4 linked regions of the Homo sapiens genome follow. The protein of the gene in region 3 purifies or fractionates together with the protein of the main gene of each other region. This does not show direct contact. Each region holds a gene or a part of one and is shown on either strand. Other genes may lie near its edges.

Region 1 (7,026 bases), on a different chromosome or scaffold from region 3:
TTCTTGTCCATTTCCATGAATAGAAATGGGAGGCTGGGCGCGGTGGCTTATGCCTGTAATCCCAGCACTTCGGGAGGCCGAGGCGGGCAGATCACGAGGTCAGGAGATCGAGACCATCCTGGCTAACACGGTGAAACCCCGTCTCTACTAAAAATATAAAAAGTTAGTCGGGCATGGTGGCAGGCGCCTGTAGTCCCAGCTACTCCGGAGGCTGAGGCAGGAGAATGGCGTGAACCTGGGAGGCAGAGCTTGCAGTGAGCCAAGATCACGCCACTGCACTTCAGCCTGGGCGACAGAGCGAGACTCCATCTCAAAAAACAAAACAAACAAACAAACAAAAAGAAATGGGGCTCCTGGCTGGGTGCAGTGGCTTACGCCTGTAATCCCAGCACTTTGGGAGGCCGAGGCGGGTGGATCACGAGGTCGAGAGTTCGAGACCAGCCTGACCAACATAGTGAAACCCCGTCTCTACTAAAAATTCAAAAATTAGCTGTGCGTAGTTGCACACGCCTGTAATCCCAGCTACTTGGGAGGCTGGGGTAGGAGAATTGCTTGAACCCAGGAGGCGGAGGTTGCAGTGAGCCAAGATCGTACCACTGCATTCTAGCCTGGGCGACAGGGCAAGACTCCGTCTCAAAAAAAAAAAAAAAAAAAAAGAGAAATAGAAATGGGGCTCCTCCATTCTCAACAAACCACCAATTAAAACATTTTTTTGTTCTCTCCTCTCTACCCTCCTTCCCCTTTCGCCTGTTCTTGGACTTAGAGGGACAACAGAAATGCGGCCTAATGCGTAGTTCACACTTATAATTCTAGCACTTTGGGAGGCTGAGGCAGGAGGATCGCTTGAGCCCAGGAGCTCAAGACCAGCCTGAGCAACACAGTAAGATCCCAACTCTACAATAAAAGATTAGCTGGGCAGGCTGGGCGCAGTGGCTCATGCCTGTAATCCCAGCACTTTAGGAGGCCAAGGTGGGCGGATCATGAGGTCAAGAGATTGAGACCATCCTGGCCAATGTGGTGAAACCCTGTCTCTATTAAAAATACAAAAATTAGCTGGGCATGGTGGTGCATGCCTGTAGTCTCAGCTACTTGGGAGGCTGAAGCAGGAGAATCGTTTGAACCCAGGAGGCGGAGGTTGCAGTGATCTGAGATAACACCACTGCACTCCATCCTGGCAACAGAGCAAGACTCCGCCTCAAAAAAAAAAAATTAGCTGGACATGGTGGTGAGTGCCTGTAGTCTCAGCTACTTGGGAGGCTAAGGCAGGAGGATTGCCTGAGCCTTAGGAGGTTGAGGCTTCAATGAGCCATGATCATGCCACTGCACCACTCCAGCCTGGCCAACAGAGTGAGACCTCGTCTGCAGAAAAAAAAGAAAGAACCATTAGGTTGTGATTTTCATTTTCTTTTTACTAGATGATGTCTTAGGCCCTGCTTGATATTTTATGATTAGGGTTGGCTTTAGCTTGAAAGGTTACTTACTCACGCCAGACTTTCCATCTATCTAATCCCTGTGCTGGGGTCCAAGACTTACAGATGCTTTCTGACCTTTAAAAAAGTCTTTTTTGGCCAGGTGCGGTGGCTCATGCCTGTAATCCCAGCACTTTGGGAGGCCGAGGCAGGGAGATCACGAGGTCAGGAGATTGAGAACATCCTGGCTAACATGATGAAACCCTGCCTCTACTAAAAATACAAAAAAATTAGCTGGGGGTGGTAGCGGACGCCTGTAGTCCCAGCTACTCCGGAGGCTGAGGCAGGAGAATGGCATGAACCCGGGAGGCGGAGCTTACAGTGAGCTGAGATCAGGCCACTGCACTCCAGCCTGGGCAACAGAGCGAGACTCTGTCTCAAAAAAAAAAAAAAGGCTTTTTTGTTTTGTTTTGTTTTTAATAAAAATGTACGACTAGAAAGGCCGGGCGTGGCAGCTCATATCTGTAATCCCAGCACTTTGGGAGGCTGAGGCAGGCGGATCACGAGGTCAGGAGATCAAGACCATCCTGGCTAACACCGTGAAACCCCATCTCTTAAAAAAAAAGAAAATACAAAAAATTAGCCGGGCGTGGTGGCGGGCGCCTGTAGTCTCAGCTGCTCGGGAGGCTGAGGCAGTAGAATGGCGTGAACCCGGAAGGCAGAGCTTGCAGTGAGCTGAGATCGCGCCCCTACACTCCAGTCCAGGTGACAGAGCAAGACTCTGTCTCAAAAAACAAACAAACAAAAAATTTACGACTAGAGCACTTACTTTGCTCTGTACTACATCCAAAGGCCAAAAATAGAAATATGCTACTCTGGGCACATTTCCTGTGGGGTAGCCCTGCTCCTCAAGGAGCAGTAGAAAACGAAATAGGCCCTGTCAGGAAGGTATTTGCATTCTAATAGAGGAGATAAGACCTGCTAGGATATCCCTAATATACAGTATTTGATCAAAGTCTTAGTAATTATTCTTTGAAATGTCTCTTTCCTTTCTATTTCCACTTCAGCCCAGTGGGTATTTTAATTACACAGTGTGCCACAATGCTTCAGGCTGTTCCCAACTACAGTATCAGACACCAGCAAAAGGTGACTTGAATGTGAGGCTGCACATCAGCATACTGTGGTCTTACGGCTCTAACGTATCCTGCAGTATGACTGATTCCTACCCACAGATGCTTTTCTTTTCTTTTCTTTTCTTTTTTTTTTTGTGAGACGGAGTTTCACTCTGTTGCCAGGCTGGGGTGTAGTGGCGTGATCTTGGCTCACTGCAACCTCCGCCTCCTGGGTTCAAGCGATTCTCCTGCCTCAGCCTCCCAAGTAGCTGGCACTACAGGCATGCACCGCCACGCCCAGCTAATTTTTGTATTTTTGGTAGAGACGGGGTTTCACCATGTTGGCCAGGATGGTCTCGATCTCTTGACCTCGTGATCTGCCTGCCTGAGCCTCCCAAAGTGTTGGGATTACAGGCGCGAGCCACCGCACCTGGCTTTACAGATGCTTTTCATCACAGTCCTCCCTTCCCAGTGTTCTCCAAAGTATGACTGCATTTTTCAAAATCTCTTTAAATTTCCTCTTGTTTGAAATATGATTTGGAATGCAGCGATTCCCCCCCACACACAAAAGAAATATGAGAGAATGACAACTCTAATGATATTCTACAAAGAGAGAAAGTTTATAATCAGGGCATTAAGCAAACTCACAAATTACAATTCTCTCACAGAATTTTAAGTAGAAGGTACAGATTTGGAGCATTTTTTTCCACCGATGTATTTACGGGAAATTTTGTTTATTCTCATCAGACATTTAGTAAACGGAACAACCCAATGAATTGGTCCTAATGAATATACCTTGAGAATGGCTATTTTATCCCCAGCTTCATTAGGGAGGCTCTGTTGATTCCAAATCTTTTTAAGTGCTTTTCCTGACACTTTCCCCCTCCCCCATATTCTCCATTTAGTTGAGCAACTTGCATCTTAAGGAAGAGAAAATCAAACCAGATACCAATGGTAAGTAACTAATAGCTAGTTTGAAAACAAATGTGATTTCCTTCAGTATTTTTGTTTTGGCATAACAACTGTCTGGAAAAAAATTTGTATTTGTACCAGGCAGGGCATTGGCAGATACTGGTACCATTTGATTTGTAAATCAACAAACTGGATTGTATGACCAAAGTGTTTTTATTTATTTTTTTGTTTCTGTTTACTTTTTAAGAGACAGGGTCTTGCTCTGTTGCCCAGGCTGGAGTGCAGTGGTTCAATCATGGTTCACTGGAGCCTCAACCTCCCAGACTCAAGTGATCCTCCACCTCAGCCTCCTGAGTAGCTGGGACTACAGGCACAACCCACTACGCCCAACTAATTTTTATTTTTTATTTTTTATTTTTTTGAGACAGAGTCTCGCTCTGTTGCCCAGGCTGGAGTGCAGTGGCTCGATCTCGGCTCACTGTAAGCTCCACCTCCCGGCTTCACACCATTCTCCTGCCTCAGCCTCCCGGGTAGCTGGGACTACAGGCACCTGCCACCACGCCTGGCTAATGTTTTGTATTTTTAGTAGAGATGGGGTTTCACTGTGTTAGCCAGGATGGTCTCAATCTCCTGACCTCATGATCCACCGGCCTTGGCCTCCCAAAGTGCTGGGATTATAGGTGTGAGCCACTGTGCCCAGGTATTTTTGTTTTTTTATAGAGATGAGGACTCCCTGTGTTGCCCAGGTTGGTTTCTAACTCCTAGGCTCAAGCAGTCCTCCCGCCTCAGCCTCCCAAAGTGCTGGGATTACAGGAGTGAGATATTACACCTGGTTTCAAAGTGTTTTTAATACAAGAATGAGGATTGCACACTGATAGCAAGGGTGTGGGGGGAACAAAGAATGAGGCTACTTAAGTGGGACTAATTACTAACCATCGGACTACATTGACAAAGACTAATTTTTTTCTTAATGTTCTCAATTTGGGATGAGATAGACAAAGTATGAGCAATCTGACAGTTTACCTATCCTAATTATTCTGAAATCATATTTATCCAAAGTTAAGATTTCCATTAAATTATTGTTGATGTACTTAATATTACAGGAAGGAAATGTAACATTTGCCTTTCTCAAAATTCACTTAAATCTTTTTTGTATGATTTTATATAACCACAGTATCATTCGACTATAAATTTATATTAATCAATTTATAGGCCGGGTGTGGTGGCTCACACCTGTAATCCCAGCACTTTGGGAAGCCAAGGCTGGCGGATAACCTGAGGTCAGGAGTTTGAAACCAGCCTGACTAACATGGTGAAACCCCATCTCTACTAAAAATACAAACATTTGCCAGGTGTGGTGGTGCACCCCTGTAATCCCAGCTACTCAGGATACTGAAACAGTGGAATCTCTTGAACCTGGGAGGCAGAGGTTGCAGTGAGCTGAGATCGCACCACTGCACTCCAGGCTGGGTAAGAGTGAGACTGCATCTCAAAAAAAGAAAAAAAAAATTTATATGCATGAATTTTTTTTGTTGGTCTTACTGCTCATTTGTTATATACATGAATTTTAATGGCATTATTGTGTTCACCTATTGATAAAATACGATTTGCATAGATATTCCTCTGTTGAGCATCAAGGTGGTTTCTGATCACTAATTGCTCTAATCTTTCTATAATATTTAAGAAGTATTGATTCAATGAGGGAAATAACAGGTTTTGAGGTACGGAGAGGAGACCTAGAATAGGAAAGAATATGAGCAACAGAGGCCGGGCGCGGTAGCTCACGCCTGTAATCCCAGCACTTTGGGAGGCCAAGGCAGGCGGATCACGAGGTCAAGAGATCAAGACCAGCCTGGCTAACATGGTGAAACCCTGTCTCTACTAAAAATACAAAAAAAATTAGCTGGGCGTGGTGGCGGGTGCCTGTAATCCCAGCTACTCGGGAGGCTGAGGCAAGAGAATGGCGTGAACCTGGGAGGCAGAGCTTGTAGTGAGTTGAGATCGCACCACTGCACTCCAGCCTGGGCGACAGAGCGAGACTCCATCTCAAAAATAAATAAATAATAAAATAAATATCTATCTATATATATATATATGTGAGCAACAGTGTTTTACACCTTTGTTTATTTAGGGACAATAAAATGTTTTTATCAGCGGCTCGGTTTCCTCATTTATTTTTTGCTCCCCAGGCCTTTACAAAAACTTCTAGTGTCATAGAATTTGAATTGTCTCAACTGTTGGGTATGGGATGCGATTTTGAATGATGGCCACTTTGTGTCTATAAAGGTGCTGTTGTCAAGACCAATGCCAATGCAGAGAAGACAGATGAAGAAGAGAAAGGTAACACAGCCGTGGAGCTTTATATAATAACAAGCTTCTACATTCTAAGAAAGTGGATTGTTATGAGGCTTCATTTTTATACCCAGTTTGGCTTGACTTTAATAGGCGATACAGTGCTAGCATAAAGGTTCAATATAGGGGCCGGGCACGGTGGCTTACACCTGTAATCCCAGCACTTTGGGAGGCCGAGGTGGGCAGATCACGAGGTCAGGAGATCGAGACCATCCTGGCTAACACGGTGAAAACCCGTCTCCACTAAAAATACAAAAAAAAAAAAAAAAATTAGCCGGGCATGGTGGCAGACGCCTGTAGTCCCAGCTACTTGGGATGCTGAGGCAGAAGAATGGCATGAACCCGGGAAGCAGAGCTTGCCATGAGCCGAGATCGAGCCACTGCACTCTAGCCTGGGCGAAAGAGCGAGACTCTGTCTCAAAAAAAAAAAAAAAAAAAAGTTCAATATAAATAGTCAGTAGGTGAAGGAGTTCTAATGGTTTACGTTTAGAGAAATTTTACATTTAACAACTGAACAGTTGAATAGGGCATTATAAAAAATTTTCAGTTGCATCTCTATTGTCCAGTAAAATTAAGCTTAATGTTATTTTGACACATTTGACATGGATGACGAGACCAACTTGTCCAATATTAAGGTACAGACTTTGTTAATTCCTGTTTTTTTTTTTATTGTTGTGATTGCTACATTAATTACTTTAGGTTTATATATAGTACAAATTGGGGAGTAAATATGTGGGTCTGGATAGGAGGAATAGATAACTGCAGGAAAAGAGGGCTGTTAGAATAGAGTCTGGAAAAGAATATGAGGCCTAAATGGGTGATGTATCATAACTTTTTTCTTTAATAAAACTATTTTAATTTATAAGTCAAAACTATGACGTACCTTGAATTTGAATGTTCAGTACATTATTATTTAAAATACAAATGGCAGTTGAATTAGAGTAAACGCCTGGTAGGTTTCAAGGACTTTTTAAAATTCTTTGCTTTCTTTTTCCTGACAGAGGACAGAGCTGCCCAGTCCTTACTCAACAAGCTGATCAGAAGCAACCTTGTTGATAACACAAACCAAGTGGAAGTCCTGCAGCGGGATCCAAACTCCCCTCTGTACTCGGTGAAGTCTTTTGAAGAGCTTCGGCTGTGAGTATTTATTCACCTTCTGACTCTTCCCCTTTGCACTGAAATAGAGATCCTAGGTCTGTTATAGATATCTTTTGACCACAACAGAGCAGTTTTAGCTAACC
Region 2 (7,026 bases), on a different chromosome or scaffold from region 3:
TGTGCCTTCTCTAATGGGAACCAAATCCTGCCCCTTAGACAAGATGGCCCTTGGCTGGGCCTCACAGGGAACAAGGTTGGAGCATTCCAGGAGGTCTTTGTGCAGGGTTGTGGATGGCTGAGGGTGCTGGGGGGTCTGGGCTCAGACAGTGTTGGTCAGAGGGAGTGGCCTGAAGTATGGGTGAGAGGCCCTGGATGTGGCCTCTGATGGCTGCACCCCTGGTGCACACCCCTGCCAGCGTGTGTGACTCCCCCGGTCTTCCCCAGGGCGAGCCTGGAGCTGACGGGGAGGCGGGGAGACCAGGGAGCTCGGGACCATCTGGAGACGAGGTGAGGAGCTTCACAGCCCCCACACATGCCAGGTATGGGCCCAGGGAGGGTCAAGGAGATGGAGCGACCATTCAACCCTTGTTCCCCACAGGGCCAGCCGGGAGAGCCTGGGCCCCCCGGAGAGAAAGGAGAGGCGGGCGACGAGGTGAGTGAGGGCTCCTGACACCTTCCTGGGGAAGTGCATGGCCTCAGCTTCTGATCCTCTTTGCTCGGGGTCTACTCCACGTCCCTGAGACCAAATGCAGTGTGTCCACCAGACTAACGCCGGCGTCTGTTTCTCTTCATCCCAGGGGAACCCAGGACCTGACGGTGCCCCCGGGGAGCGGGTGAGTGGGGCAGGGGCAGCCTGCGCTGTTGGCCTCACCATGTAGCTGTGGACGTGGCCTCTGCGGCCCAGTCTGGCCCTCCCAGCACTGAGAGCCATGGCCTCCTGCCCAAGACAAATGGGTTTCTTCACCCACACGTCCAGGATGCCTCTTCCCACAGTCTCAGAGCGGGTGGGACCTGGGGAACCAGGAGATTCCGGCCTCTGCAACCGTGGGGCATGCGGTGGAGGGGTGGCCCCTCCCAGGGGTCCTGCTGGGGGAGTCAGTCCAGGCCAGGCCTCAAGCCCCACCCCAGCTGGGTGTGAGTTCCAGCAGCTGAGGCTTCTCCCCTCCATGTCTCTCCACTCAGGGTGGCCCTGGAGAGAGAGGACCACGGGGGACCCCAGGCACGCGGGGACCAAGAGGAGACCCTGTGAGTCACAGTTCCTGGAGCTGGGAACCACCCCAGGAAGGGGCAGGCGGAGGCTGGGGCTGGGTCAGGCCTCCAGAGCCACAGGACACATCATGAAGCCCCTGTGGCCCCTCAACGTGGCCAGCCCATCCCCACGCCGTCAGGGAGGGCAGCCCCTGAAGCCGGCGCCCAGCCATGTGCCTGATGCTGGGACCTGTTTCATGTGAAGGCGTTGCCCGTGGACCCGGTGCCCACTTTCCCACCAGGCGGCTTCCACGTTTCTGCATCCGAGCTTGGGTTCTTCTTTGGAATAATTTTCCTTAGTTAAAATTCCCAGCGTGAGGAAGTTGGGTCAGTACCCCAGACGGGAAGCTAGGCCTGCAGGGCGCCTGCCTGGGAAGGCTTGACATGGAAAACTCACCCCAGAGCCGAGATGCCGGCGGCCTCAGAGGCCACCCCCCACCTTCAGCTCCGTGGACCGTGGGCCTCGCTAGGCCACCCCACAGCCCAGCCTCAGGGTGCAGAAGCACAGGGCCCTTCTCTGTCCCTGTGACTTGCTGGGAAATCTGTGCTGGATGTGGGGCGGGGCAGCTGGCAGACTCCGGGCGTCTCAGTCCCATCCGGCTCAGGGAGAGCCAGGGCCTGGCGGGCAGAGTGAAGGGGAGAGAATGCCCTAGTGTGCCCAGCCGAGCTGCCAGGCCTCAGAGGCAGCGCCCCCGGGTGCCCCCTTGTCCGAGAATCAAGACATGCGACTGTCGTGTGCTGTGACAGACAGGCGGGGCTCCAGCAGGGCCAGAGAGCTGAGCCGGGGCCAGAGTCGCCGCCACCGAGGGATTTGGCTCCCCAGTGGGGGGTGGGGGATTTCTGACCTCCTCCCTGGGAGCTCCCCAGAAGCGCACAGCCCCCGTGGAGGGGTCGGGGGGACGTCAAAGCAGGGATCGTGTGACTTAGTGACTCAGACTGCCTTCTAGGCCCACTCCTCTGAGATCAGGATATGAGACTGACAGCCAGGCAGAGCCCAGAGGAAGGGCCAGCCACGCAGCTCCAGCTTCCCGGCGGGCCACAAGTCCATGGCTACAAACACTTGCCGGGTCCACGGAGCTTGCTGGAGAAGCAGGGATGCACGCAGGGACGCCTCTGGGGCCCCAGGAGGAGCTGCCGGCCTCCTGAATGAAGATAGCCATAGCCAGCCACGCCGATGGCCACGCACGTGGGCCGAGGAAACGCTTGGCGAGGCCAGGAAGGGGCTGTGCGGGGAGGGAAGGCCGGAACAGCCCAGTGACCACCTGGACAGCATGCTGTGGCTCCCAGCGTGCCCGGGCAGCCATCCTCCCCAAGGATGGCCCAGCTCCACACTCACGGCTCGTTTCTCTTCAGGGTGAAGCTGGCCCGCAGGGTGATCAGGGAAGAGAAGGCCCCGTTGGTGTCCCTGGAGACCCGGTAGGAAGCGCTGTGGGGTTGGGGGGCGTTGGCCAATTTGGGTTTTGGGGGTAGAAGTGCTCCAGCAGCTCACGCACTGGGGGTCTGTTCATTTCCGTTTGAGGGCCTCTGTGTTTCCGTAGATCTCGGGGGTGTCCCTGCGTGGGAGCCGGCTGCAGGGGGTGAGGCGCGGCCTGGGCCGGGCTGGTGTGGATTGTTGAGAGCAGGCCCAGCGCCCGGGGGCCTGACGCTGAGACGCTCAGCCCAGGTGGAGAAGCGCTGTCTGGGGGCCCATCCGGGGCAAGGGTGCCTCACAGTGAGGAAGAGGTGTTGGAGCCCCTGGGAGACACTGGGAGCTTGGTCAGCATCTGTTTTTCTGGGTCAGGAGCCAGGCATGACTGTGGCTGGAGGTCAACTGGGGAGTGTGAGGCTATGGAGGTTTCCAGAATCCCAGGGTGTCAGGATGAAAATGCACTTTCATCTCATTCTAAATTCCCTTCTCCGAGCCTCTGGAATCGCTGTGCACGCCGCACGGCTTTCTGTCTCTTCCCCCATTCTGATGACTGCCATGATGGTGGCTCCAGTGTGGTGTTGCCCGCAGGCTGGGCTGGGCCGTTGCATCCTCCCGGAGCTCACCTGCCCCACGGGGACAGGAAGGCCTCCACACGGTCACGCCCGGAGACAGCAAGTCTGTGCTCCCGAGCTTGTCTGCTTCTGTGGACAAATCGACCTTACGGCTCCATGTGCGCAGCTGCCCACACACCGAGCACAAGGCCAGACCCTGGGCACGGCAGCTGTCTCAGACGTCCAGCAAGATGGGGCCTCAGACCCAGGGAGATGGGAGAGGCCGTCCCAGTGCAAGTCACATTTGTATTTCTGTGCACGAGGTGAAATCGTGCTTTTGTGGTGCCAACGGGTGTTACACAGCTGTTAAAAATACCTGTGTCATAGATGAGGACCAGGGCAGGGCTTGGCAGGCGGGGTCTGGGCCGTTCGTCCACCTGGTCCTGCGTGCCGCTCACGGCAGGGGCAGAAAGGGCTCCCGACACCTTCCTGGGGAAGTGCACGGCCTCAGTCTCTGATCCTCTTTGCTCTTTGAGCTCCCGGGGCTCCAGCCCTGAGGATGATCTGACCTCCCATGTGGTCACCCAGGACAGGGCCAGGTGCAGGGCACAGTGCGTGGAAGAGGCCATGCAGCCAGTGGCAGATTGTGGGGAGGGGACGGCCCAGGGCCACGTTCCAGGCTTGGGAGGCTGCTCCAGACCTTGGTAGCTGAAAGTCTCAGTGGGAATGAGCGTTCAGAGGCCAGGACTTGCTCGGAGAATTCTAACCACACCCTGCCTGTTTTATATGTTCAGTTTTCAAAGTAATCAATAGCCACTATAAGAAAAAAACAAAGCCACTTTCAAAGGGTTGTGGTAAGAGGCAGTCCTGTGAGCAGGCCGGCTGCAGGGCCTCCAGGGCTGTGGGGCAGGCTGCACAGGGGCTGGTGGGTCCCATGCCTGGGGGTCTGGGAATAGTCTCTAGGCTGCTGTCCTGGAGGAGGTTTCCCCCAACGCCTGAGACCAGGGCACCATGTGACCCATGACTCACAGTTGCCTGGCTGAGGCAGGCACTTGTTCACCTGGAGCCTCCCTGGGGCCTTTCGGGGCCCGGGGGTGTGGATAGGTGGCTTTGGAGCCACATTTGTCCATCGGGACGTTGGGCTCCCAGCTGGCCTTCCGGGCTTTCCCTGCTCCCAGAACCTCCCTGCTCAGCCCTTGCCAGCCTTACCCCTCCCCTCCACCCTGCCCAGCATGGGGCTCTCCCTGTGTGGATGCCAGAAGCAGTTGGGCCCTCAGGGCTGGTCCCAGGAGGTGCCCCCAGTGAGGTGCTCTGCAGAAACTGCCCAGTCTGGCCTCCTGCTGTCTGTGGCACAGTCTGACTGTGTGTGGTGAGGTCCAGGCCTTCTGCCTCCCACTTACCTGGCCCAGGGCACAGAGACCTCCTTTCCATCCTTCCTCCTGGCCCCCTTTTCGTGTTCCCAAGGCAGGATCTCAGGGTACCAGACTAACCCCTGTTGAACCCCAAGTTTGGTGAGCTTCTGGACCTCCTTGAGGCCCGTGTGCAAAGTCCCCAGTCAAGTGTGCAGTCCTGACTGCTGGGGCGTTGACCACGAAGGGTGCAGGAGCTTCACAGCCAGGCCTGGGTGCTTGCACAGTCGGGGTAGAGAGAGCAATACACTAGATGCCTCCTGTCTGCCTGGTGGAGGCCACGGGGTCAGGATGGTGAATGGGCCAAGTCTGGTAGTGGGGAAGTTGTAAACATTTGAACCACCGGACAGGCCTCATCGGGAAGCATCAGCCTAACCACAGGCCAGGGACAGGCGTCTGAGCAGGCACAGGCCAGGGACAGGCGTCCGACCAGGCTCATGGCTGGGGCCAGGTGGGCCAGGTGGGCCAGGTGGGCCGGGCGATGTGTACACGGCTCCCTTCTTGGCTCAGCTGGGCGCGCTGGGAAGTGCTTGGGGTGCCTGGGCTAGACTCCGAAGGGCAGGGACTCGCCGCTGGAGTTGTCCACGGAGCAGGCCCTCAAAGGTGGGAGCTGGGGCCAGCTCTGGAAATAGACCCCCACAGGGTCCTCATGAGATGTGGGGGACCCAAGGAAGTCCAGCAGGCAGCCTCAGGTGCAGGTGGGGGCAGGGTGGTGTCCAGGCTCAGCCCACAGAGGGTCCTGCGGTTGGGGGTGGGCTAAGGGGACCAGGCCAGGCCCAAAGGGGACCATGAGGGAGGGCAGTCTGGGGCCACTCTGATAGGAGAAGGGGCAGGTGGTCTGCGGCCTGGGGACCTGTAGCCTCACCCCTCCGTGGGGACCTGAGGCACCAGCCGGGCACTCACCGAAGTCATCTGGGACAGGCTTCACCCTTCCGTGGGGGCCTGAGGCACCAGCCGGGCGCCCACCAAAGTCATCTGGGAGAGGCTTCACCCCTCCGTGGGGGCCTGAGGCACCAGCTGGGCGCCCACCGAAGGGCTTCAACACTTGTGCCCAGGCCCTTCGTGCAGGCCCTTCGTCAGACCCAAGAGTGGGCCTGGCTCTCCCCCTGCACTGATGGGACTGGGGCCAGAGCCTGGGGGCCCTGATGCCTCTTGGTCTGAGACCCTCAGCTTAGGGTCAGGGAGGGCTCAGGCTGGGTGAGGCCTGTGGTCCAACGTGCCATATCCATCTCTCTACAGGGCGAGGCTGGCCCTATCGGACCTAAAGGCTACCGAGGCGATGAGGGTCCCCCAGGGTCCGAGGTGAGTCCCACTCCCCACCCACACCCGCCCACCCAGGGGGGCCTGAGGATCCAGAACCCACTGTCTGCCCAGTGCTGGCCCCGTGCCCTCTGAGGACTCTATGGCCCTGGGTGTCCTGGCTCCCGATGGGACCTCTCCCGGCCCCAGGAGGGCCCTGCTTCCCTCCAAGGTCACCATGCTAAGCCTGCTCCCCTCACGCCTCCTCTTCCTCCTCAGGGTGCCAGAGGAGCCCCAGGACCTGCCGGACCCCCTGGAGACCCGGGGCTGATGGGTGAAAGGGTGAGTGTCCAACAGCTCGGGCCCTAGGGCGGAGGCCTGGCCGCCAGAGGCCCTGGGAAGCCCCAGCCCCGCACTGTGGAGCTGCCTGGGGTCCCTGACCGGGCCGGGAGTGCCCGCAGCATCACTGGCTCCTGGCCACAGTCGGCACCTGAGCCAGAGGCCGCCTCGGCAGGGCCCCTCCTGCCCCGAGATCCGGGTCCCAGGGTCCACGGGGACCAGCAGGGTGGCCCCAGGGGAGGGAGCCGGCTTCTGGGCTGACGGAGGGGCCCTGCGGGTGAGGTGCTCCCGGGCCTGTGCCAGCCAGTGGGTATCCCAGGCCAGGCCGATTCGCACGGTGACGGCTACTCTGCTCCCCCAGGGAGAAGACGGCCCCGCTGGAAATGGCACCGAGGGCTTCCCCGGCTTCCCCGTAAGTGTCCGGAGGCTGAGCCCACAGGAACATGCCCAAGCTGCCTGCGGCGCCCTCTTTAGTGGACTGGGCACTCTTGGGTGGGCGGGCTGGCCCCAGGACCGCCGGCTGGCCCAGGAATTCCATGGCCGGGATTCTGTCAGCTCAGGCCCTTCCGCTGTGCGCCCCTCACAGCCTCCCCTCTCAAATCAGAACCCGGTATCACTGCCCTGCTTTTCCATGACAGGGGTATCCGGGCAACAGGGGCGCTCCCGGGATAAACGTGAGTACGCCCCCTCCTCCATCTGGCTGTGGGCACACAAACATTCACAGTCACAGGGACACGCACGTGTGAACACACATGTGCACACAGGCTCCCGAGCAAACACACGGGGTACACAGGCACCCACGGCTGCCCCACTGTCTGTGGCCACAGCCCCAGTTGGCATCGGCTCCTGCAGGCCCTGCGAGGCTCCCACTGTGGTGTGGCCTGTGGGTCTCCTCACGGCCCTGACTGCCCGGTGACCGATCTCCCCTCGGTGCGCAGGGCAGGCCCAGCCCCAGAGGCCGCCCCACGGCTCTCTAGGCCACTCCGGGACCCAGTTTCTCCAGCCCAGGA
Region 3 (6,624 bases):
GAACTGCTGAGATTACAAGCATGTGCCACCATGCCCAGCTATTTTTGATTATTTTTAGTAGAGATGGGGTTTCACCACGTTGGCCAGCCTGGTTTCAAACTCCTGGGCTCAAACGATCCTTCTACTTCAGCTTCCCAATGTGCTGGGATTACAGGTGTGAACCACCATGCCTGGCTGAAATTTTCATGTCTTGTTCACTACTGCATCCCCAGAATCTAGCACACAGTAGGTGCTCAATAAATGTTTGTTGAATGAATGGATGAGTTAAAGGAGTGTTCACAAGCAACACACATTCACAGAAACTTCAGAAGGACACATAATGTGTGCACACAAACACATCCTGCTCAGCACATGACATTTCTTTGTTCATTCATGGTCAACCTTCATGGTCAAAAACCTTTATCCACTGACTTCCAACATTTTTGCAGGGACACTAACCCAATGCTACATTTCCCCTTCTCACATTTATTAAGATCCTGTTTTATTCAACTGCAAACACATTGCTTGGGACACACAATCCTCCCCCAGATTCTGAACGTATACACACACACACACACACACACACACACACACACACACACAACCACTCCACCAAGAAACACACATAAACATAACCTCATACAACAAAAACACACATACATGCTCAACACACACACAGCCACACAAACAAAAGACACAGGTGCCTGGGAACACACACAGGCTATAGGCCACACAAACACACCTTCCTCACACACATACACACACACACACACACACACACTCCCCACATATATAGATACAGAGCTTAAGCCACAAGCTGAACATAAAAACAAACACAAGGATATATACACACCAGCCCCAAGTCGGCCAGCCTTTGGTCAGCTGGAGTGTGGGCAGGACGGTGGGAGGTCCCGCCCCTGCATTAAGCCACGCCCCTTTCAGCAGCCAGTTTCCTGGACTGGATCCTGAGGTGTCTTAGCGGCCTCTAGACCCCAATCCAGCCAACAGGTGAGGGGCTGAATGCGGGGAGGCGGGAAGGGGACAGTCTTGTCTCCACAGACCGCTAGCTGTCCCTGCCTCGGGGCTTTGGGCCCCAGTGACAGAACCTGAGCCCTGCCACACCAGCCTTGGTCCCAAAGGTCCAGCTCTGGGTGGCCCCTAAGCCGATTGTGGGCCGAGAGAAGGTGACCCAGAGAAGGGCCGGCAGGGAGCGAGAGAGGGAGGAGGGAGGCCGCATAGAAGAGAGGGAGGAATTACTGAACAGGAGAGGGGGATTGGAAGACCTAGGGAGGTCCCCTTCATTCTGAGAAAAGAAGGGGTCTCTTGAAGACTAAAAAGGTGGGAGATCCTGCTGGATGGGAGGAGGGCCACTGTGGTCTAAGCTTGGTTGGGGTGGCACTGAAGGGACATAGAGGACATGGTTCTGATGGGAGGGGGGCTCCTAGGTTGGAGGCAGGCCCTGATGGTCTCCTGGGATTTGAACGTCCTTGGCCACTGCCCCAGCCTCCTCCTCAGCTGCACTTTCCCTACTCTGCCTGGCACTGCTTCTTGGGTATGCACTGGGTGGGTGCCACCCTAAGCTCACAGAAAGGGATGGCTGAACCCCACCCTATGCCTGCCAGCTCTTATCTCAGGTGGACATGGACTGCAGGGTCCACATGCGACCCATCGGCCTGACGTGGGTGCTGCAACTGACCTTGGCATGGATCCTGCTAGAAGCCTGTGGAGGGAGCCGCCCACTCCAAGCCAGGTCCCAGCAACACCATGGGCTGGCAGCTGATCTGGGCAAAGGCAAGCTGCACCTGGCAGGTGAGCACCCCAGACCCTGCCTCACCACCAACACCCAGAAACCCACACCTACCCTGCCATGACAATGTTAGAATTTCCTTATGAGAGGGGCCTAGCATGGCCACCAAGGTGGGAGGCACGGATAGTGCTGAAGAATGGTGGATAAGAATTAGACTGCCTGGGTTCAAATCCCAACTCTGCCACTTTGTAGCTGTGTGATCCTGAGGAAGTCATTTAACCTCTCTGGGTCTCACATGGACCCCCAAAAAGAGAGAAATAACAAATATACCTCGCAGAGCTGTTGTTAAGATTAAGCATATAAGCATATGAGCAGGGCTCGGTGGCTCACGCCTATAATCCCAGCACTTTGGGAGGCTGCAGTGGGCAGATCATTTGAGGTCAGGAGTTTGAGACCAGCCTGGCCAGCATGGTGAAACCCCTGTCTCTACTAATAATACAAAAATTAGCTGGACGAGGTGGCATGCGCCTGAAATCCCAGCTACTTGGGAGGCTTAGGCACGAGAATTGTTTGAACCTGGGAGGTGGAGGTTGCAGTGAGCCAAGATCACGCCACTGCACTCCAGCCTGGGTGACAGAGTGAGGCCCTGTCTCAAAAGAAAAAAAGAAAAAAAAAAAAGGAAAAGGATTAAGTATATGTGTCACTACCAGGCACATGACAAGTAAGTTGATTATTATAAACAAGAAATGATTATTACTACTTGAAGCTGCATTTGCATTCCAAAGGAAGGGTCTTAAGTTATGGGTTTGTGAGGATTGATGTAATTGTTGTCTCCCCTGTCCAGGGGATCCCCAGGCCTCAGTTCCCAAACCTTACCTGAATATCCAAGACCCTAGCTCACAGGGTTCCCCTTTGCCAGGACCTTGTTGTCCCTCAGAGATGGACACAACAGAGACATCGGGCCCTGGAAACCATCCAGAACGCTGTGGAGTGCCGAGCCCTGAGTGAGTACAGCACCCTCCACCGTTTTCTCGCGTACTTTGCCCATTGCCCAGGAACTCCCTCGGGTCCTGACCCATCCGACCCTATCTCTCCCAACGTCCAGATGCGAATCCTTCCTGGAACACCTCCAACGTGCCCTTCGCAGTCGCTTCCGCCTGCGGCTATTGGGGGTACGCCAGGCACAGCCGCTCTGCGAGGAGCTCTGCCAGGCCTGGTAGGAGACGCGGGGGCAAGGGGCGTGGGTTGTGACTTGGGCGGGGAAGAGGGCGGAGCCTGCAGTTTGCTTGGCCTTCTGTGTAAAGGGGAGTGGCCTCCAACAGGGCCAAGGTTTAAGAGATGCAGCTTAATGTTTAGAGCCCAGGTAGATAGGGGCGAGGCATGAGAAGCCCCCAGCTTTTAAGATACCTGCCATATGGCAATGTGGCTTTTCATAGCCCTGCGATTTCTTTTCTTTTCTTTCTTTCTTTTTTTTTTTGAGATGGAGTCTCACTGTGTCACCTAGGCTGGAGTGCAGTGGTGCAATCTCGGCTCACTGCAACCTCCACTTCCCGGGTTCAAGCGATTCTCCTGCCTCACCCTCCTGAGTAGCTGTGGTTACAGGCGCACACCACCATGCCCGGCTAATTTTTGTATTTTTAGTAGAGACGAGGTTTCACTATGTTGGTCAGGCTGGTCTCAGACTCCTGACCTCGTGATCCGCCCGCCTCGGCCTCCCAAAGTGCTGGGATTACAGGCGTGAGCCACCGTGCCCGGCCTTTTTTTCTTTTTTTTTTTTTTGAGATGGAGTTTTGCTCTTGTCGCCCAGGCTGGAGTGCAGTGACACGATCTCAGCTCACTGCAACCTCAGCCTCCTGGGTTCAAGTGATTCTCCCGCCTCAGCATCCCTAGTAGCTGAGATTACATGCTTCCGCCACCACGCCCGGCTAAATTTTGTATTTTTAGTAGAGACGGTGTTTCACCGTGTTGGCCAAGCTGGTCTCAAACTCCTGACCTAGGTGGTCCGCCTGCCTTGGCCTCTCGAAGTGCTGGGATTACAGGGGTGAGCCACCATGCCCAGCCAGGCCCTGAGATTTCTTAAGGAGTGAGTCCTCTTGATTGAAAAGATAAGGTAAAAGGGTGGGTGCCTGTAATCTCAGTCGTTTGAGAGGTCAAGGCAGGAGGATTGGTTGAGGCCAGGAGTTCAAGATCAGCCTGGGGAACATGGCAAGACCCAGTCTCAACAAAAAATTTAAAAATTAATTAGACATGGGCCGGACGTAGTGGCTCATGCTTGTAATCCCAGCACTTTGGGAGGCCAAGGTGGGCAGATCCCCTGAGGTCAGGAGTTTGAGACAAGCTTGGCCAACGTGGTGAAACACCGTCTCTACTAAAAACACAAAAATGAGCCAGGCGTGGTGGTGGGCGCCTGTAATCCCAGCTACTCGGGAGGCTGAGGCAGGAGAATTGTTTGAACCTGGGAGGCAGAGGTTGCAGGAAGCAGAGATTGGGCCACTGCACTCCAGCCTGGGTAACAGAGCAGGACTCCATCTCAAAAAAAAAAAAAAAAAAAATTAATCGGACATGATGGTGCGCACCTATAGTCCCAGGTACTTGAGACACTGAGGTGGAAGGATTGCTCCAGCTTGGGAGGTCAAAGCTGCCATAAGCCATGCTTACGCCACTGCACTCCAGCTTGAGTCACAGAGCAAGACCCTGACTCAAAAATAAATAAAAGGAAAACGAAAGAGTGGGAAAATATGAGGGACTGGCCTGTAACTAATGGTCTGAGGTCTGTAGGGACAAGGCCAGTTGTGACGTGGCCCAGAGTATGGAAAGATCTGATAGAATATGGGGCAGGGTGAAATCTGGAGAGATGGGGTTAGTTAGCAGGGGAGTGGTTCTAAAAGGCGGGGCCTGGATCCGAGGTGGGGGCATATAGTGAACACAGTCTAGAAGAGCCAGAATCGCGCTGGAATGTAACTACAAAGGCTTTACCCACCTCTCCACTCGCCATCTCCAGGTTCGCCAACTGCGAAGATGATATCACCTGCGGCCCGACTTGGCTCCCACTCTCAGAAAAAAGGGGCTGTGAGCCCAGCTGCCTTACCTATGGACAGGTGAGCGTGGGGCAGAAGGTGAAGGGAAGAGACTGAGATCCTCCCCACCAAGTTATTTATTTATTTATTTATTTATTTCTGAGACGGAGTTTCATTCTTGTCACCCAGGCTGGAGTGCAGTGGCGCGATCTCAGCTCGATGCAACCTCCGCCTCCGGGGTTCAAGTGATTCTCCTGCCGCAACCTCCCGAATAGCTGGGATTTCAGGCGCATGCCACCATGCCCAGCTAATTTTTGTATTTTTAGTAGAGTCAGCGTTTCACCATGTTGGCCAGGCTGGTTTCGAACTCCTGACCTCAGGTGATCCGCCCACCTCGGCCTCCCAAAGTGTTGGGATTACAGGTGTGAGCCACCGCCCCCGGCCCCCACCAAGTTCTTTCTTACCGTGTCTAGACCCCAGAGACCGGATTGGTACTCCCCAGGTCCCTGCTCCCACCCTTCCCTAGCCCAACCTCCTACTGGGTTGTGCCCTTTGACCCCAAAAGCTCTCGAAGTCCAGATTTGCCCTTCCCAAGAAACCATTCCTGCTCTGGGTCCATCCACATTTTACCCTGGAGGACCCAGAAGCCCAGTCACTCTCTACAAAACCCCAGCCTTGATACAGACCTCTCTGCGCGCCCCCCAACTGCCCCAACCCTGATTCATCCCGCTAGGGCCCAGTAAGAACATTCACCCTCCCCAAGGACCTGCCCCCACTCACGTTCCGCACATAGACTCCCAGGCCGCACGCTCCGGCTCTGACCCCAATCCCTAAGGAATTTACACATTTTTCCCTTCCCGAGGCCACGCCCCCCACGTCTCTGGACTCCGCCCACTAGGGCCTTAACTCCACTTTTTCCTAGACCTTCGCAGACGGGACGGACCTTTGTCGCTCGGCTCTGGGCCACGCCCTACCGGTGGCTGCTCCTGGAGCCCGTCACTGCTTCAACATCTCCATCTCCGCGGTACCTCGTCCCAGACCAGGACGACGGGGCCGGGAAGCTCCCTCCCGGCGTTCCCGCAGCCCTCGCACCTCCATCCTGGACGCTGCGGGCAGCGGGAGTGGCAGTGGAAGCGGCAGCGGCCCCTAGCGGACGCGTGGCCCTGAGTTGGGGGAGCGACCCTTCCCCCAGCCCCGCCCCTCAGGACACCCAGAACCCCACCCCTCGTCCTCTCGGCCTTCTGTAATAGTTTTGAGATGTCTGTCCCTCCTCCCTGGAGCTCCAGAGACCCACCCCTCTCCAGGTTATCCCAGAAATGACCCAACTCTCTCACTTTTCCCTCTCCCCTTTGAATAAAGTCGCCAGCTAGAGCACGTGACGAGTGTGGCTGCTTCTTGGGGAAATAAGTCGGAAGGAGAATTGCCAGAAAGTAACGGATGTCTCACGTCTAATCCTCAGACCCTAGAAGTAGTGACTGACTCATACTAGAGTGTAAATGATAGATAGCCTGTGCCCTAGAGCAGTCAACATAACTGGGAATACCCAGTTGTTGGAAATGGAGAGGGGGTCAGAACAGGGGCTGACAAGGGCAGGAGGGGTTCCTTCCCACTGTGTGCCACCAGGGCTGCCAAGAAGCTGCCTAACTTGTATAGGCCTCAAGACACACTTCAAGGCCAGGTGCAGAGGCTCATGCCTGTAATCCCAGCAATTTGAGAGGCTGAGGTGGTTGGATTGCTTGAGCCCAGGAGTTCAAGACCAGGCTTCGCAATACGGTGAGAACCTGTCTCCACAAAAAAAAAAAGAGAGAGAGAGAAAGGAAGAAAAAAGAAAAAGAAAAAGAATATTTTTAATTGGCCCAGTGTAGTGACCCGTGCCTGTAT
Region 4 (6,991 bases), on a different chromosome or scaffold from region 3:
TTTTTGTTTGTTTTGTTTCTTTGTTTTTTTTTTTTTTTTTTTTTTGAGACAGTATCACTCTGTCGCCCAGGCTGGAGTGTAGTGGCGCAATCTCCGCTCACTGTAACCTCTGCCTCCTGGGTTCGAGTGATTCTCCTGTCTCAGCTTCCCGAATAGCTGGGATTACAGGCGCATCACCATGCCCAGCTAATTTTTATATATTTTTTTTAGTAGAGACGGGGTTTTGCCATGTTGGCCAGGCTGGTCTTGAACTCCCACCCTCAGGTGATCAACCCACCTCGGCCTCCCAGAGTTCTGGGATTACAGGCATAAGTCACCGCGCCCGGCCTGTCATGTTTTGTTAATGCATTGCCCTCCTGTATCCAGCATGACAGATTAAAAGAGCATAAGCCCCGTAGATCCGTATCCTCATCTGGCCTTCACTACTTCCTAGCAATGACACCATGGGCATGTGCGGTAACCTTGGCTGCAGAAGAGAGGTAAGAACACCAATCTCACAGCCCTGTTATGAGAATTAAATAAGATCATGGATGCAAAAGTGGCTGGCACATAGTAAGTGCCCAATAAATTGTCACTAGGGTGGCCAGATAAAATGTGAGGCACCCAGATTAACTTGAATTTCAGATAAACTTTTTTCTTAAGTATATCCCAAATATTACTTGGAGGTTCTGGGCACATTTCACCGATAACTGTTCATTGTGTTAGATGTGCTAGTGATACTGGGGATATGTTGATATAGTCCATCCTCCCTACTCTTGGATTCTGTATTTACAAACTCACCTAGTTGCTAAAACTTATTGGTAACATCACAATCAATACTTCACTGTCACAGTCATCTGCAGATGTGTGCATGCACAGAATACCAAAAAATTTGAGTCACACAGTGTGCACATTCCCAGCTGCAGGTGAACAAGGAGACTCTGCCTTCTTGTTTCAGCTCTCATACCATAAATAAGTATGCTTTTTTGAGCTCTAGTTTGTGCCATGTTTTTCACATTTTTGTGCTTTTTGTTGGTGATTTAACTGTTTAAAATGGCCCCAAGTGGAGTGCTGAAGTGCTGTCTGGTGTTCCCCACCCAAGAAATGTGCCTTATTGGAGAGAATAGGTGTGTTAGATAAGCCTCCTTTAGGCAGGAGTTATAGTGCTGTTGGCTGCGAGTTCAGTGTTGATGAATCAACATATGTAAGGTGTCTTTAAACAGAAACACATGAAGTGAGGTTATATATTGACCAGTTGATGAAAATGCTGTGACCAGAGACTCACAGACACCTAACCTTGTATCTTGTATTTCTCCTGGAAACATGGTTCAGTATTTACTAATTCAGTGTTTGTGGCAACTTTATAGAACAGAATTACCTCAAATAATGAGAATGAACTACACAGTTGATATATGTGTGTGTGTGTGTGTGTGTCTGCGTATATATATATATATATATGTAGATGCAGATGTATTGTAATAAAATTAAGTCCTTATCTATTAGAGATACCTACTGAAATATCATGGATGAAGTTATATCATGTCTGGGATTGTTTTAAAATACTCCAGCAAGGAGATAAAAGTGTGTATATCGAGAATGCAAAAGAAATGAGATACCAAAGGTTGAAGGTTGTAGAAGCGATTTTTTATTTTTGAGACAGAGTTTTTACTCTTGTTGCCTAGGCTGGAGGGCAATGGTGCAATCCCGACTCACCACAACCTCCACCTCCCCGGTTCAAGCAATTCTCTTGCCTCAGCCTCCAGGGTAGCTGGGATTATAGGCATGCACCACCATGTCCAGCTAATTTTGTATTTTTAGTAGAGATGGGGTTTCTCCATGTTGGTCAGGCTGGTCTCGAACTCCCAACCTCAGGTGATCCACCCGCCTCAGCCTCCCAAAGTGCTGGGATTACAGGCATGAGCCACCGTGCCCGGCCAGAAGTGATGATTTATTGGACTGTTTTCTCTACTTTTGTGTTGTATGTTTGAAAATAACCATATCAAAGGGTTTAAAATGCACTTGAGAAAGTCTTGGGGAAAATTTCTTTCTTTTTTAAAATTTACAGATTTTTTTTCTTTTTTTAATTTCTTTTTTTATGTTTTTGGGAGGGGAATTTGAGATCCCATTATCAGCAAACCCCAAATCCTTCCACGAGCTGGGATGGGATTTAAGAGACCTGGCTCTAGTCTCAGCCCCACCTCAGACCTGCTCGGTTATCTCTGACAACTCACAGTGCCACTGGAACTGTTTTCTTATCAGTTAAATAAGGAAGTTTAACTGGACAACCTCTGAATCCCTTTCATTGTTAAAGCCCTCTAATTCTAAAACCAGTATTTCTTAAATTGGCATGTTCTGGTCGGATATTACAGCCTCTCTTCAGCTGTCTCTCCCCTGCCCAATCCATCCTGTTACCATATCCTGTGACTCTTGCCAATTTTCTCCCTTTCTTTTGCAACATTCTTACCACAAAGCTCTTTGATTTTGGTTTATCTAAAACCTGAACTCCCTAGCCTAGCAGTGAAGGTCCTTGCAGCAGAGGACCCACTGAATGCTGCGACATGATCTCACTCTACCAAGAGCAAGCCCACAGTGCAGTTCAAAAAGGGCCAGGCAGGATGCAGTGGCTCAAGCCTGTAATCCCAGCACTTTGGGAGGCCGAGGCGGGAGGATCGCTTGAGGTCAGGAGTTTGAGACCAGCCTGGCCAACGTGGTGAAACCCCGTTTCTACTAAAAATATAACAATCAGCCGGGCGTGGTGGCAGGCGCCTGTAATCCGAGCTACTCGGGAGGCTGAGGCAGGAGAATCACCTGAACCTGGGAGGCAGAGATTGCAGTGAGGTAAGTGAGCTGAGATGGTGCCACTGCATTCCAGCCTGGGCGACAGAGCCAGGCTCCGTCTCAAAAAATAAAAAGGGCCAGAAAAACAGGGACAACACATGCCATGCCAGACTACTGCAGAGCACAGAGGCAAGTCACCCAAGCAGGTCTGGGAAGGCAAGAAGTCTCCTGGAAGAGGTGATATTTGAGCTGAGACCTAAAGGCTGACCAGGAATTACTGCAGCTAACAGAGGGGAGGGAACATAGAGGCAACAGCATGCGTGAAGGAATGGAGGCAAGAACATTGGCAGAAGTCCAAAATTCAACATCCATCATCACATCTAGCACCATGAATCTCTCCAGCAGTATTTGCCACACTTCCTTGCCATCCTCCTTTGCCTCCTGCTTAGTCTGTGTGGTGGAACTCCTGTGATTCATATTTGGGAAAGTATATATTGGACTCCCCACAGGGCTCCTTTAAAATAACCAGGTCAGGAGAAACTTACACTTCCTATTGCACTCCAGTTTTGCTCATCTCCCGTAATTCTGATGGCCCATTTTTCAGTAAACTCAAGCTCAGAAAGGTTGTCAGTCATTCAAGCTCACGCAGCCAGTGAGGGGGGAAAATGGGGATGCAGAGCAGGTGGACCTGCCGCCTATTGTCCCTTAACTGCACAGGCAGTCTGGGCACACAGAGGCTTCTGGCCAGGTGTCTGCCAGAGAAAACGTCCTTGCAAGTTCCCCGCATGCTGCAGCGTACACAGGTGCGCTGCTGTGATCCTCTTTCTACATTGAGAAAGATGAGATCAGTTTCCTCAGGGCCATTTAATAAAGTCCTGTCGGTCGCCTCAAACATCCCATCCACCGAGGGCCGAAGATTCTAGGTCTCTCCCACCTCCCACGTGACTATGTGACATTTGACGGGTAACTGCATCTCATCTGTAAAATGCGTCTTGCAGGATCGTTCTGGCTTCCGTACAATCCTGCAGAGAGCAGCAAAGCGCGCACGCAGCCTCCGCCTCATACTCCGCAGTGGCAGAGCTGGCGCACAGAACACCCGCCAGCCGGCCGTGCGCAGGCGCACTCCGCCAAGTCCCGACGGGAGCTCTGCGGCTGCGCACTCGGCTGGCTTTGCGGCCGCACTGCTTGACGGCAGCGGTGTCCGCCCCACGGCCGGCGTTGCCGGGGTAACGGCGAGCGCGTGGGGCCAAGAAAGGTAAGGGCCCTGGGCGAGGAAAGCGCGGCCCTTTCCGAGTTTGGTGTTTTGCAGCGAAAGGAAATCTCGCTCTTCCGAAAGTCCTCCAGGGCGAGAGAGGAAAGGGCCTAGGTACTGTGCTGGGGTCGCACAGCCGGCCGAGACAGTGCCGGGACGGGGAGCCAGGCTTCCGAGTGCGCCCGGTCACTGACTCCTCCGCGCTTTCCTCGTGCGCCTGCAGCCCTTGGTTCTTGGAAACGCCGGCGCCTTGTTCAGGGCTGGTGGGGCTGGGGCGCAAGGTGCAGCTGACAATGCCCGAGAGGAGCCGCAGCCTCTGGTGGAGTTCGGTCGGGTGTGGGGGTAGTCAAGGAAAGAAGCAAAGGGGTAAGACAGGGAGTTAGGAATTGGCGGGGCCCCTAACGCTGTTGGGGTGCGCAGTTTATTTTATTTGCAGCTGTCGTCTGGTGAGCGCTTTCCACGTGGTAGGCCCCGAACGAAACGCCTTCTGCAAAATTATGCATTTAATCCTGACAACAACTTTCAAAGGCTGGTCATCTGTTTATATGGCTTATTCTCAGGTTCTAACTTGAAAGCTCCCCAGAGGCAGGATTGTTTACCTTGTGCCTTTCATCCTTGCCTCCCTAAGCCCAGGAGGTGCGCAGATGGAGCTTGAAGCGTGTTTTGGTTGGGAGAAGGTGAGATTTGCTGGGTAGGAGGTTTTTTAACCAGGTTTGTTTGGCACCTAGTCCAGGAAGGTTGGAAAATTAAATGGAGCCACCTCTCCCTTTTTTGTTTTTCTAATAGACATTTACCATCACCTAAGAGGTGTTAGCCTGTGTGCTCGAGGGAAGAATAAGAAACAGACTCTGCTTTTAATAGAAAGTAAGAATATGCAGCTCTGGAGTCAGGTTGCGCAGGTTGGGGAAATAAGAAGTAAAGATTTCTCAGGGGTGCGCCCGGCCCCTCCGAGTCACTTTCCACATCTGTACAATGGAAATAAAAATAGTCTTTACCTCCGGGGGCTACTGGGATTAAGTGAATTTGAATAGACCTTGCTGTTACCAGTGGTTAGCTATATGTTAAAATCAGCTGGGTCCACCCAGGAAATTCTGATGTAATTGATTGCAGGTGAGGCCTGGGCATGAGGAGTTAAGGGTAGGTAAGCTTGAGGGCCACTGTGTGATGTACCACTCCCAGGTTTAATTTTCTTAATCTGCATTTTTCAATCATCATTCTAAATAACCTGCAGTGACTCCAATTCCAAACCAACCTTTGCATCCCAAACCTCTTGACAACTGACCCAGTCTTTCCTATATGTTTTTGTGCACCTCAGGCACCGCTCTTCTTTCATATCTGTGGAATGAGGATAGTACAGTCAGCTCTCGCTATCAGGTTCCGAATCTGTGGATTCAACCAATGTTGCATCAAAAATATTTGGAAAAAGAAATTTAAAAATATATATATATAACAATTATTTAGTATTTACATTGTATTAGGTATTCTAAGTAATCTAGAGAAGACTTAAAGTAGATGGGAGGATGGGCATAAGTTACATGCAAATACTACATTTTATTTAAGGGACTTGAGCTGCGGATTTTGGTAGGGGGTGAGTCCTGGAACCAGTCCTTCTGTGGATACCAAGGGATGACTATAGTACCCACATGTGCAGCACATGCAGTGAGTGCCTCTGGCATCTGGTACCTACCTATGACAGTTTCCTCTTCTTATTTTACTCACATCCCACCTCTTACAGCATGCTGTTCTGCCGCGACACTAAAGAACCTTCTTGAATATCCATTGCAGATATGGGGAATGGTAAATGCAGTCTTTTCTCCTCTGCTTTGCCTTTCGAGTTCAGCACAGGAGGACTCTTCCATGAAACTAGAGATCATCTGATTTGTCCTCTTGAATTTTTCCCCCTGGGGAAGTGAGCTCTACCTTCCCTGAGGGTTTCTTTCTATCTTTTCTAGAAGCTTCACGCTGGTATCTGTGAAGTCATTCTTGCAGGACATGGCCTGGGGAATGTCTTTACTTCTGAATTTTTTAAAATAGCTTTATTGAGATACCATATAATTCTGTAAAAGTCACCCTTCTGAAATGTACGAGTCAGTGGTCTTCGTATTCGCGGAGTTATGTAACCATTACCATCACTACAATCTAATTTTAAAACATTTTCGTCACCCTCCAAAATAAACCTCCTGTCTTATTAGCAGTCGCCCCCCCATTTCCCACTTTTCCCTGTCTCTGGCAACTGGTAATCTGTCTCTATGGATTTGTCTATTCCGGAAACTTTATCTTAATTGTCTCGTGGTCTTTTGTGTCTGACTTCTTTTAGCATAATGCTTTCAGGTGTTGAAGAATGTATCCGAACTTCATTCCTTTTCTATGGCTAAGTATTTGATTATATGGATAGACCACATTTTGTTGATCTGGTCAACTATTGATGGACATTTGGATGGCTTCCACTTTGATGCTATTATGAATAATACTGTTGTGAACATTCACATACAAATTTTTCCATGAACATATGTTTTCATTTCTCTTAGGTCTATACCTAGGGGTGGAGTTGCTGGATCATGTCGTAACTATGTGTTTGACATTTTGAGGAACTGCCAGACTCCTCCAGTCCTGTTCGATTTGAAGATGAAACTGGGCTTAGAGAAAGTGGGTTGTGCAAGGTCACACAATAATAATGGCGGCTTTGCATGTCTGGAAGGCCTACTGCGAGCCAAATTCCTGAGGGGTGTGCAGCCACATGAGCAAGAGTAACACAAGAACTTGGATTATGAGGGGTGTTTTGTCGCAGGGACCCTTCCATCCCACACACCTGGGTTGGAGTACAGAGTTCTTTCGATCAAGTGTCACAGCTAAATCTTGCCTTTTTTAGATGTGACAGCAGTCTGAGAGGGAAAAACGCTGAACAAATGAGGCAGACTAAAATACAACTCTTATTTGTTGAGAGAATTTATTAGAACTTCTTGAAGGTGGCCATTAAATCTT

Evidence for each region.
Region 1: the proteins of RTBDN (region 3) and DDX19B purify together in Homo sapiens (affinity purification with mass spectrometry; 2 studies listed by BioGRID and IntAct, with this or other methods). This does not show direct contact.
Region 2: the proteins of RTBDN (region 3) and COL6A1 purify together in Homo sapiens (affinity purification with mass spectrometry; 3 studies listed by BioGRID and IntAct, with this or other methods). This does not show direct contact.
Region 4: the proteins of RTBDN (region 3) and TSEN2 purify together in Homo sapiens (affinity purification with mass spectrometry; 3 studies listed by BioGRID and IntAct, with this or other methods). This does not show direct contact.

The regions. Positions count from the first base shown.
Region 1 is NC_000016.10:70,309,183-70,316,208, forward strand, and holds part of DDX19B (ATP-dependent RNA helicase DDX19B), read left to right. Parts: intron 1-3,426; coding exon 3,427-3,475; intron 3,476-5,719; coding exon 5,720-5,773; intron 5,774-6,457; exon of another isoform or gene 6,458-6,786; coding exon 6,787-6,922; exon of another isoform or gene 6,923-6,960; intron 6,961-7,026. UniProt on the Homo sapiens protein: ATP-dependent RNA helicase involved in mRNA export from the nucleus.
Region 2 is NC_000021.9:45,991,744-45,998,769, forward strand, and holds part of COL6A1 (collagen alpha-1(VI) chain precursor), read left to right. Parts: intron 1-266; coding exon 267-329; intron 330-420; coding exon 421-474; intron 475-619; coding exon 620-655; intron 656-1,004; coding exon 1,005-1,067; intron 1,068-2,423; coding exon 2,424-2,486; intron 2,487-5,677; coding exon 5,678-5,740; intron 5,741-5,956; coding exon 5,957-6,019; intron 6,020-6,377; coding exon 6,378-6,428; intron 6,429-6,654; coding exon 6,655-6,690; intron 6,691-7,026. UniProt on the Homo sapiens protein: Collagen VI acts as a cell-binding protein.
Region 3 is NC_000019.10:12,824,975-12,831,598, reverse strand, and holds the end of RTBDN (retbindin isoform 1 precursor), read left to right. Parts: intron 1-919; exon of another isoform or gene 920-987; intron 988-1,170; exon of another isoform or gene 1,171-1,317; intron 1,318-1,601; coding exon of another isoform or gene 1,602-1,619; coding exon 1,620-1,788; intron 1,789-2,645; coding exon 2,646-2,730; intron 2,731-2,831; coding exon 2,832-2,942; intron 2,943-4,706; exon of another isoform or gene 4,707-4,727; coding exon 4,728-4,824; intron 4,825-4,932; coding exon of another isoform or gene 4,933-4,992; exon of another isoform or gene 4,993-5,665; coding exon 5,666-5,893; 3' UTR 5,894-6,117; downstream 6,118-6,624.
Region 4 is NC_000003.12:12,480,506-12,487,496, forward strand, and holds the start of TSEN2 (tRNA-splicing endonuclease subunit Sen2), read left to right. Parts: upstream 1-3,974; 5' UTR 3,975-4,375; exon of another isoform or gene 4,376-4,686; intron 4,687-6,991.